2 separate regions of the Homo sapiens genome follow, and region 1 is linked to region 2. The links come from fine-mapping of genetic effects on gene expression. A gene starts in region 2. The other region holds a variant in brackets. All regions are shown on one strand. Distances are from middle to middle.

Region 1 (5,369 bases), 55 kb before region 2:
CCTGTAGTCCCAGCTACGCGGGAGGCTGAGGCAGGAGAATGGCGTGAACCCGGGAGGTGGAGCTTGCAGTGAGCCAAGATCGCGTCACTGCATTCCAGCCTGGGCGACAGAGCGAGACTCCGTCTCAAAAAACAAAACAAAACAAAACAAAATACAACCTAAATGACAGGTTTGGAGAGCTTCTGAGTTGATGAACACATGGAGGTGCTGGAAGGGTGGTGCCCCCCTCCCCAAGAAAGGGTGTGGAAGTGCTGCACACCATCCCCCACACATTGCCCTCTTTATCACTTCCATTTGGCTGTTCCTGAGTTGTCTCCTTTTTTTGTTTTTTTGTTTTGTTTTGTTTTGTTTTGTTTGTTTTGAGACAGAGTCTCGCTCTGTCGCCCAGGCTGGAGTGCAGTGGCGCGATCTCGGCTCACTGCAAGCTCCGCCTCCCGGTTCAAGCGATTCTTCTGCCTCAGCCTCCGGAGTAGCTGGGATTACAGGGCGTGTGCCACCACGCCCGGCTAACTTTTGCATTTTTAGTAGAGACGGGGTTTCATCATATAGGCCAGGCTGGTCTCAGACTCCTTACCTCGTGATCCGCCCGCCTTGGCCTCCCAGAGTGCTGGGATTACAGGCATAAGCCACTGCGCCTGGCCTGAGTTGTCTCCTTTATAATAAATCAGGAGTAGTAAGTAAAACACTTGCCTGAGATCCGTGAGTCATTCTAGCAAATTATCAAACCTGAAAGGGAGGGGGCTTGTGAGAACCCCCCCTGACTTTGTAGCCACATTGGACAGAAATATGGGTAACCTGGGAACTCAATACTTGATACCTCTGAAGTGAGGGAAGCTCAGTTTTGTGGGACTCAGCCCTTAAATCTGTGGGGTCACACACCAACTCTGGGTAATTGGTGTCAGAACTGAATTGTAGAACACCCAGCGGGTGTCCACAGAGAATTGGAGAATTACTTGGTGTGGAAAACCCCACATGTTTGGTGTCAGAAGTGTGGGTAAAAAAGTTTATTTCTGGCTGGGGGCAGTGGCTTACGCCTGTAATCCCAGCACTTTGGGAGGCTGAGGTGGGAGGATCACTTGAGGTCAGGAGTTCCAGACCAGCCTGGCCAACATGGCAAAACCCCGTCTCTACTAAAAATACAAAAATTAGCCGTGTGTGGTGGCGGGCACCTGTAACTCCAACTATTCAGGAGGCTGAGGCAGAAGAATCGCTTGAAACCAGGAGGCAGAGGTTGCAGTGAGCTGAGATCGTGCCACTGCACTCCAGCTTGGGCGACAGAGCAAGACTGTCTCAAAAAAAAAAGAAAAAGAAAAGGAATTAGATAAACCACCATTTTGCAACCTCTTCTGAAAGAATTGGTTCAGGATGCTATGGTCATTGAATGAACCCCTGAGTTCATTGATGCTCAGCTGTGACCATGACTATATCTTAAAAACCACTAGGATCATCCCCAGACCCACGTCACAGCCCAGTTCAATTAAATTAGAAGATCAGGATCTGGCCGGGCGCAGTGGCTCACGCCTGTAATTGCAGCACTTTGGGAGGCTGAGGCGGGCAGATCACGAGGTCAGGAGATCCAGACCATCCTGGCTAACAAAGTGAAACCCCGTCTCTACTAAAAATACAAAAAATTAGGCTGGGTGTGGTGGCTCACACCTGTAATCCCAGCACTTTGGGAGGCCTAGGGGGGCGGATCACGAGGTCAGAAGATCGAGACCATCCTGGCTAACACGGTGAAACCCCATCTCTATAAAAATACAAAAAATTAGCCGGGCATGGTAGCGGGTGCCTGTAGTCCCAGCTACTCGGGAGGCTGAGGCAGGAGAATGGTGTGAACCCAGGAGGCGGAGCTCGCAGTGAGCCGAGATCGCGCCACTGCACTCCAGCCTGGGGGACAGAGCGAGACTCTGTCTCAAAAAAATAATAATAATAATAAAAGATCAGGATCTGTGGTTCAGGTTTAGGTAGTTTGTTAAAGCTTCCAGGTGATTCTAATCTACAGCCAGGGCTGGTAACTCATGCTTTTCAGGAAATATGTGGACAAGAGGAACAGGGTAAATAACCAAAACCACAAAGAAAGCAGTAAGCCCAGAACATCTGGCACTCCCCAAGCATTTCACACTTTTTTTTTTTTTTGAGACAGTGTATTGCTCTGTCGCCCAGGCTGGAGTGCAATGACATGATCTCAGCTCACTGCAACCTCCACCTCCTGGGTTCAAGCAATTCTCCTGAGGTCAGGAGTTCGAGACAATCCTGGCCAACATGATGAAACCCCGTCTCTACTAAAAATACAAATATTAGCCAGGCATGGTGGCACATGCCTGTAATCCCAGCTAGGCAGGAGGCTGAGGCAGGAGAGTCACTTGAACCCGGAAGGCTGAGGTTGCAGTGAGCCAAGATCGTGCCATTGCACTCCAGCCTGGACAACAAGAGCGAAACTCCGTCTCAAAAAAGAAAAAAGAAAAAAGAAAAAAAATTAGCTGGGTGTGGTGGCGCATGCCTGTAGTCCCATGTACTTAGAAAGTTGACATGGGAGACTCCCTTGAGCCCAGGAGTTAGAGGTTACCCTGAGCAACAATCACATCTCTGCACTCCAGCATGGGTGATAGAGTGAGGCCCTGTCCCTTTAAAAAAGTTTTGAGCCAATTAGGAAGACTCAACAATGGCCTAGGTATTAAGGGATGCCAAACAAGCAATGTTAATTATCCTAGATGTGATAACGGTGTTATGGTTGTGAACGCAAATGAACATATCGTTAGAGATGTGTACTGAAATATAAAGGGAAGAAATGACATTGTCTGAGGTTTGTTTTTTGGAGGGTTTTGTTGATGTTGTTGTCTTGTAGAGATGGAGTCAGGCCAGGCACAGTGGCTCACACCTGTAATCCCAGCGCTTTGGGAGGCCGAGGCAGGCGGATCACTTGAGGGCAGGAGTTTGAGACCAGCCTGGTGAAACTCCATGTCTACTAACAATACAAAAAATTAGCCAGGCGTGGTGGCAGGCGCCTGTAATCCCAGCTACATGGGAGCCTGAGCAGGAGAATTGCTTGAACCCAGAATGTGGGAAGGTTGCAATAAGCCGAGATCACACCACTGCACTCCAGCCTGGGTGACAGAACAAGACTCCATCTTAAAAAAAAAAAAAAAAGGCGGGGGGGGTCTTGCTATGTTGCCCAGGCTGGTCTCAAACTCCTGGGCTCAAGCGATCCTCCTACCTCAGTCTCCCAAAGTGCTGGGATCACAGATGTATCACCACAAAAAAATGATAAGTGAGCCTATAGATATGTTCATTAGCTTGATTTAATCATTCCACATTGTATGCATATATCAAAACATCACATTGTACCCTATAAATATATATAATTATGACTTGTCAATTTAAAAAAGAAAAAATACTTTATCAAGGGTAAAAAGGGGATT[G/C]ATAAAGCAAATATGTCAATCTTTGCATTGTTGAACCTGGGTGATGTGTATGTTTCTCTGGATGGATGTTCTTGGCTTTTGTGAAAGTTCTAGATTTTTCACAGAATAATTTACAAAACTGGCTGGGTGCAGTGGCTTACACCTGTAATCCCAACACATTGGGAGGCCGAGGCAGGTGGATCACCTGAACTCAGGAGTTCAAGACCAGCCTGGCCAACATGGTGAAACCCCATCTCTACTAAACATACAAAAAATTAGCTGGGCATGGTAGCGAGTGCCTGTAATCCCAGCTACTCGGGAGACTGAGGCAGAAGACTCACTTGAACCCCGGAGGTGGAGGTTGCAGTGAGCTGAGATCGTGCCATTGCACTCCAGCCTGGCAACACAGCAAGACTCTCTCAAAAGGAAAAAAAAAAAAAAACCACACACACACACACACACACACACACACACCAAGAATAATTTACAAAACAGGAAAGTTGTATGAGAAAGGGCATAGTCTCTCATTCAGGCATTTTGAGGTAAAATCATTGCCAAAAATGAAAGTAAGGAGAAAGAAGTCAGGCTGGACAGGGGGTTCCCAAATCTTTTATTAACAGTCTCCCCTCCAGAAGCAGTGAGTGCCACAGAGAAATAAAACTGAGACTGAATCTCCAGCAGCCAGATGGGCCCAGGTGTCTCATCTTCTCCAGGCCTGGGTGTCAGCCCAGCTTGATAAACAGCAGCAAAGTGGCAAGAATTCCTGGCAACTGAAATGCGTGAAGAAAGAAACATGGATCCAATGCTAGAGACCTCCAAACCAGAATCATACTGGAGTTACGGGGACAAGGGGAGCATCCTGTTCCAGAAAGGCGAGGGGCAGGGTTTTACAGATGGCTGAAGAACCGCCTGGGCTAAGTTGGAGCCACTGTGGTTACAGTGCATTCGTCTCCACTTATTTTTTATTTATTATTATTTTATTTATTTATTTATTTATTTATTTTTGAGATGAAGTCTCCCTCTGTCGCCCAGGCTGGAGTGCAGTGGCGGATCTTGGCTCACTACAAGCTCCGCCTCCCAGGTTCACGCCATTCTCCTGCCTCAGCCTCCCGAGTAGCTGGGACTACAGGCGGCCGCCACCACGCCTGGCTAATTTTTTTGTATTTTAGTAGAGACGGGGTTTTATTGTGTTAGCCAGGATCGTCTCGATCTCCTGACCTCGTGACCTGCCCACCTCGGCCTCCCACAGTGCTGGGATTACAGGCGTGAGCCACCGCGCCTGGCCTATTATTATTATTATTATTATTATTATTATTATTATTATTGAGAAGGAGTCTCACTCTGTTGCCCAGGTTGGAGTGCTGTGGCACTATCTTGGCTCATTGCAACCTTCATCTCCCGGGTTCAAGCAATTCTCCTGCCTCAGCCTCCCGAGGAGCTGGAATTACAGGCGCCCAGCACCACGCCCGGCTAATTTTTGTATTTTTAGTAGAGATGGGGTTTCACCATGTTGGTCAGGCTGGTCTCGAGCTCCTGACCTCAGGTGATCCATTCGCCTCGGCCTCCCAAAGTGCTGGGATTACAGGCGTGAACTACCGCGCCTGGCCCATCCTCTCCACTTCGGCCCTCCCCGGAGCCCTACGGACCATATTCCCCAGACTCCACTGCCACATAACTTCCGGTTAGGCTTGGCCAATAGGAAGCACCGGGAGAAGACGGGTGAGCGGGAGGAGAGAATGGTAGGGTATTCCTTCCCCACTTCCTCCCTCTTTTCTTCCCCTCCTTCTGGGCTCCTACCCTCTTCATGCCCTTTCTAGAGCCTTCAGGCCTAGGAGAAATAAAAGTTCCCCATGTCTTTAGCTCCTGGGCGCCTCATTTCACTGAACCCTGTCACCCCTCTGCAAGGAGGCCCCTGAAAACATCTTAAATGGACCATCTGGGGGCTGAATGCTGTTTCCTGCTGGGATCCTT
Region 2 (5,300 bases):
AGCTGGGATTCAGGCTCCCACCACCATGCCCGGCTATTTTTTGTATTTTTAGTAGAGACGGGGTTTTGCCATGTTGGCCAGGCTGGTCTGGAGCTCCTGACCTCAAGTGATCCACCCGCCTCGGCCTCCCAAAGTGCCAGGATGACAGGGAGCCACTGTGCCCGGCGGGTTGTGGGAGGACTTTGGCTTTTACCCTGAGTGAGGTGGGAGCCATGGAAGGTTCTGAACAGAGGAGGGAACTGAAGTGATGCAGGTGTTCCCAGGCTCTTCCTGGCCACTGATGCAGGAACAAGCTGGGGGGAGGATGAGAAAGGAAGCTGGGAGACCGGATATAAAGGGGGCTGGACTGGAACTAGGCTAAGAAATGTGCAAATCTTCGCTCATCTGCATATTTCCTGCCCAGCCTAGCTCCCAGCAGCCTGAGAGGCAAGGCGGGGACACTTGGTGGGGCATGGCGGGGAGTGATGGGCGGAGCTCCACCTGGCCAAAGTGGCTGGACCACTCCGGGCAGGCACGTGGGCTGTGTGCACATGTCACATGCCAGGCTGTGAGCAGCCCTACTGCGGCCTGACTAGCAGGATGCTATCCTGCGTCTGACTGGCAGGGTTTGGGGGTTCCCCTACAATCCAGGCCTCTTTCCTGTGGGTTCAAGGTCTGACATGGATTCATTGGGCAGCAAGGCAAGAAACTGTGTCTCGGGGGTGCATGGTGACTCAGGGTGGGCATGTGGCTCATTCCTGTAATCCCGGCACTTTGGGAGGCCGAGGCGGGTGGATCACCTGAGGTCAGGAGCTCCAGACCAGCCTGGCCAACATGGTGAAACCCCGTCTCTACTAAAAATACAAAAAATTAGCCAGGTGTGATGGTGGGTGCCTGTAATCCCAGCTACTCGGGAGGCTGAGGCAGGAGAATCGCTTGAACCTGGGAGGCAGAGGTTGCGGTGAGCCGAGATTGTGCCATTGCACTCCAGTCTGGGCAACAAGAGCGAAATGCCACCTCAAAATAAATAAATAAATAAATAAATAAATAAATAAATAAATAAATAAATAATAGAGGATAAAATGCCAGCAACCCATAGATGGGAATGAGAACAGCACGTGCAAAGGCCCTGAGGCAGAGCCACGGCCTTGTCTGATTCAACCTCAAATTCTCCCTGGGGCATTTGCTGACCAGGGAAAGAAGGGCTGTCCAGGAGGAAGGACCTGCCGGTGCAGAGGCATGCAGGTGAGAAAGGGGTGAGCTCCTCCAGAGGGGAGTGTCGGCTGGAGAATTCTCTAAAAATGCTGCAGCAGTGCTGGGAGAGAGGCCAGTGGGGAGAGATTTGAGACCATAGATTAACCAAGACATCCCCACCTCTTCCTCTTGGTAGAGGCGGCCCCGAAAGTCTAGACTCCCAAACTGGCTCACTCAGGTCCCACCACCTGGACCTGGGGCACATCTCCGAGCACTCCAGTGCCTAGCCAGGCTCCTCTGACTCCCATGCTGTAGACTGGGAGCACGGACAATGCAGGCGCTGGAGACCCCTGTGAGTCACACTGAGCAAGCACCCGAACACCTCTGTGCCTCAGTTTACTCATCTGTAAAAGGAGGAAAACAATAATTTCTTCTGCATGTGTGAATTGCAGGGCCAGGCTCAATGACATCTTAGCAATTAGACTTTTTGAGACAGGGTCTCGCTCTGTCACCCAGGCTGGATTGAAATGGCACAATCACAGCTCACTGCAGCCTTGACCTCCCAGGCTCAAGCGATCCTCCTCCCTCAGACTCCCAAGTAGCTGAGATTACAGGCACACACCACCATGCCTGGTTAATTTTTGCATTTTTTGTGGACACGGGGTCTCATTATGTTGCCCAGGCTGGTCTCCAACTCCTGGGCTCAAACAATCCTCCTGCCTTGGCCCCCCACAGTGCTGGGATTACAGGCATGAGCCACCATGCACGGCCACGATTATACTTACAGGTATGATTATTAGATACATGAACATCGTTATTGTTTTCCAGCCAGGAGTCAGAGGGCAGAAAGAGCGCCCCCCAAACCCCGGAAATCTGGGGCCTACCCAGCCTGGGTCCCAGCGCCTCCCCTCCCTCCCTCCCTCCTGAGCTTCAGTTTCCCCAGCCCTGCTCCTGGGGTGGTAAGACCACCCCACTAAACCCCGGGAGCCTGGGGTCCACCTAGCCCGGGTCTCAGCGCCTCCCTTCCCTCCCTCCCTCCTCAGGCTCAGTTTCTCCAGCCCAGCTCCCAGGGTGGAAAGAGCGCCCCCGCCAGCTCGGGAGTCTGGGGCACCCCCAGTCTGGGTCCCAGCGCCTCCTCTCCCTAACTTCCCTCCTCAGCCTCAGTTTCCCCAGCCCTTCTCCTAGGGTAGAAAGAGCGTCCCCCCAGCCCGGGAGTCTGGGGCCCGCCCAGCCTGGATCCCGGGGCCTCCTCTCCGTCCCCAGCCTCAGTTTCCCCAGCCCCCAGGACTCCAGGCGACCCCTCCGGCCTGCAGGGGCAGCACGGAGCGGCCCGGGCCACCCGGAAGGGCCCCGCCCCCGCGCCGGCCCCGCCCCGCCCCGGCTGCCCAGAACCGGGAGGCGGCGGCGGCGGCGGGGCCGGGGCCCGGGGCGGCGGCGGCGGGACGCGAGGACCATGGCTGCCTCCGAGCGCCGCGCCTTCGCGCACAAGATCAACAGGTAGTGTGGCCGCGGGGCCCCCTCCCACCTCCCCCACGTGGCCCGGCTCCGCCCCGGGGCGGTGCGACCCTCCCCGCCCGGGCGCCCCCAATTCAACCCCTTTCCGCCTCGGCCCGGGTCCCGCCAGCTTCCTCCGGCCGGGGCTGGGAGCGGGAGAAGGCGGGGAGGGCCGCGGGGGTCCCGGCGGGGGTCCCAGATGGGAGTCGCGTCGGGGCTGGGAGCGCGATGGCGGCTGCCGTTCTGCCTCCGTGACGCGCGGGGGTGTGTCCGGAGGGCTTCCCGGAGGAGGTGGCGTGGGGATGCGGATGACGGGCGCCCCCTGAACTCCCTGCGCTCCCCGTCCGCCTCTCGGCCCCTCACTGTCCCCGCGCTCTCGGAGATCGGGGTGGGCCGGACTTTCTGTTCCTTCCTCAGTGCCTGGTTTGGGGCAGGGAGGCTCCAGGCTCTGAGATTTGGGGACAGAGATGGGCTCCTTGGTGGCGTTTGAAACCCCTCGAGGAGTTTCCCGTGCCCTTCCCCCTCCAGGGTCCAGTGCCCAGCTGTCGGGGGGGGGGAAGGGGGACAGCTGTGGACGCCCCCCCACCTTCTGCTTCAGGCTCTCCCGTCACGGGCTGGACCGCGCTGGGGATGGATGGGTGATTGAATGGAGGGAGTGGGGGCTGGGGACAGAACCAGCTGGTGGGCAGACGGGGGAGGGGACAGGCCCCAGGCGCTGGGGGATCCATTTCCGTGGCCACTGGGGATTGTGAGAGTCACAGCCTGGGAGGGGTATATCAGACTCTCTGGGGCTGAAAAGCCTCGCCCCCAGTTGGCGGGGGGTCTTTGCGACAAGGGTGCGTTCAGAAGCTCAGGTATCCTCTCCCCGGGGGACCTGTCCTGACTGCCCCCAGGTGAAAGAGCTGCCCTGTGGGTTGGGCCCTGGTCTTATGGAGACAAAAGATCCCCCTCTTGGGATATAGTGGCGGAGAGAGACCAGAAGCCTGATCGAGTAGATTACCTGTCAGTGACAAGTGCTGTAGGGACAAGAAGACAGGGAAGGGGGATGGGAGGGTGGGGGCTGCTTGAGATGCGGGAGGTGGGTCAGGAAGGCCTGGATGAGCAGGTGCCTTTGAGCAAAAACCTCAAGGAGATGAGAGAGGGATCGATCGAGGCCAGTTTGTGGGGGGAAAGAGTGGGAAGGGTTTGTGCAAAGGCCCTGAGGCAGGAACAGAGAGCTGGAGGGGGACAGTAAGAGTAGAATGTACAGGGTCGTGTGGGCTGTGCAAGGGACTTTGACTTTGGACCCCAGGTGAGGTGGGAGCCATGGGGAGTTCTCAGCAGAGGAGGGATGAGACTTGGTGGCTGGGGCGTAATGGCTGGGCAATTTTTATGTTCTATCATTATCTTTGTCTGTAAATTGGCTTTCAAAATGTCTTAGACCTTTGGCGTCTTTGAGGCTGCAAACATTATTGCTGTCTGTTTCTTTTTCTTTCCTTTTCTTTTTCTTTTCTTTCTTTCTTTCTTTTTTTTTTTTTGAGACAGAGTCTCGCTCTGTCACCCAAACTGGAGTGCAATGGCACAATCTTGGCTCACTGCAACCTTCGCCTCCTGGGTTCAAGCGATTCTTGTGCCTCAGCCTCCTGAGTAGCTGGGGTTACAGGCGCCCACTACCACACCCAGCTAATTTTTGTATTTTTAGTAGAGAGGGGGTTTCACCATGTTGACCAGGCTGGTCACGAACTCCTGACCTCAGGTGATCCGCCCACCTCCCAAAGTGCTGGGATTACAGGTGTGAGCCACTGCACCCAGGCTTTTTTTTTTTTTCCTTTTCTTTTTTTGAGACAGGGTCTTGCTCTGTCACCCAGACTGGAGTGCAGTGGTGATACCTTGGCTCACTGCAGTCTCAATCTCCCGGGCTCAAGTGATCCTCCTGCCTCAGCCTCCCAAGTAGCTGGGACTACAGGTGTATGCTGCAACACTCAGCTAACTTTTTAACCTTTTGTAGAAACGGGATCTCACTATCTTGCCCAGGCTGGCCTCAAACTCCTGGGCTCAAGTGATCCTCCTGCCTCGGCCTCCCAAATGCTGGGATTACAGGCGTGAGCCATTGCGCCCAGCTTGCTGTCTGTTTCTTTGCATTTTGGTCTGTATGTCCTTGGGTCCTGGTTTTTACTCAAGTGAGAAAGAGGGGTTTTGGATACTGTAGAGCTCAGGGTAAGAGTAGAGAATGATCCTGGGGCCCTAGTGAACTGTGAGGGAGTGGCCCAGGGCTTCCAGAGCAACTTCGCTCTTGGGCACCCAGGTGTCTACATACTCAGAGCTGGTCCTATATTCATCTGTTCATCCATTCAGTCATTTATTCCACAAATACCAGATTAACCCGAATATTAGACAATCTTCCAGCTACTCCAGAGGCTGAGGCAGGAGGATCACTTGAACCCAGGAGGTGGAGGTTGCAGTGAGCAGAGATCGTGCCACTGCACTCCAGCCTGGGTGACAGAGTAAGACTCTGTCTCAAAAAAAAAAAAAAAAAAAAGGCCGGGCGCGGCGGCCCAGGTCTGTAATCCCAGACTTTGGGAGGCCGAGGCAGGTGGATCACCTGAGGTCAGGAGTTCGAGACCAGCCTGGCCAACATGGTGAAACTCCGTCTC

What was found. PIP is the estimated chance that this variant, and not a neighbour inherited with it, causes the effect.
Region 1: its variant is fine-mapped to the expression of DOCK6 in T cells (TOPMed, PIP above 0.99).

Annotation. Positions count from the first base shown.
Region 1 is chr19:11,314,590-11,319,958 of GRCh38, reverse strand. It overlaps TSPAN16 (tetraspanin 16), which reads right to left. Exons shown (of 7, transcript NM_001282509.2): 7 at 3,992-4,168. The coding sequence ends at 4,121. The region is part of intron 1 of TSPAN16-AS1 (TSPAN16 antisense RNA 1); the gene reads left to right. Among named protein-coding and RNA genes, the nearest start is that of TSPAN16-AS1, 4.1 kb to the left of the region's middle. The variant G/C (reference allele first, on the strand shown) is at 3,420.
Region 2 is chr19:11,259,767-11,265,066 of GRCh38, reverse strand. It overlaps DOCK6 (dedicator of cytokinesis 6), which reads left to right and starts at 2,543. Exons shown (of 48, transcript NM_020812.4): 1 at 2,543-2,670. The coding sequence starts at 2,627. RefSeq lists silencers at 2,459-2,618, 2,689-2,748, 2,829-2,968.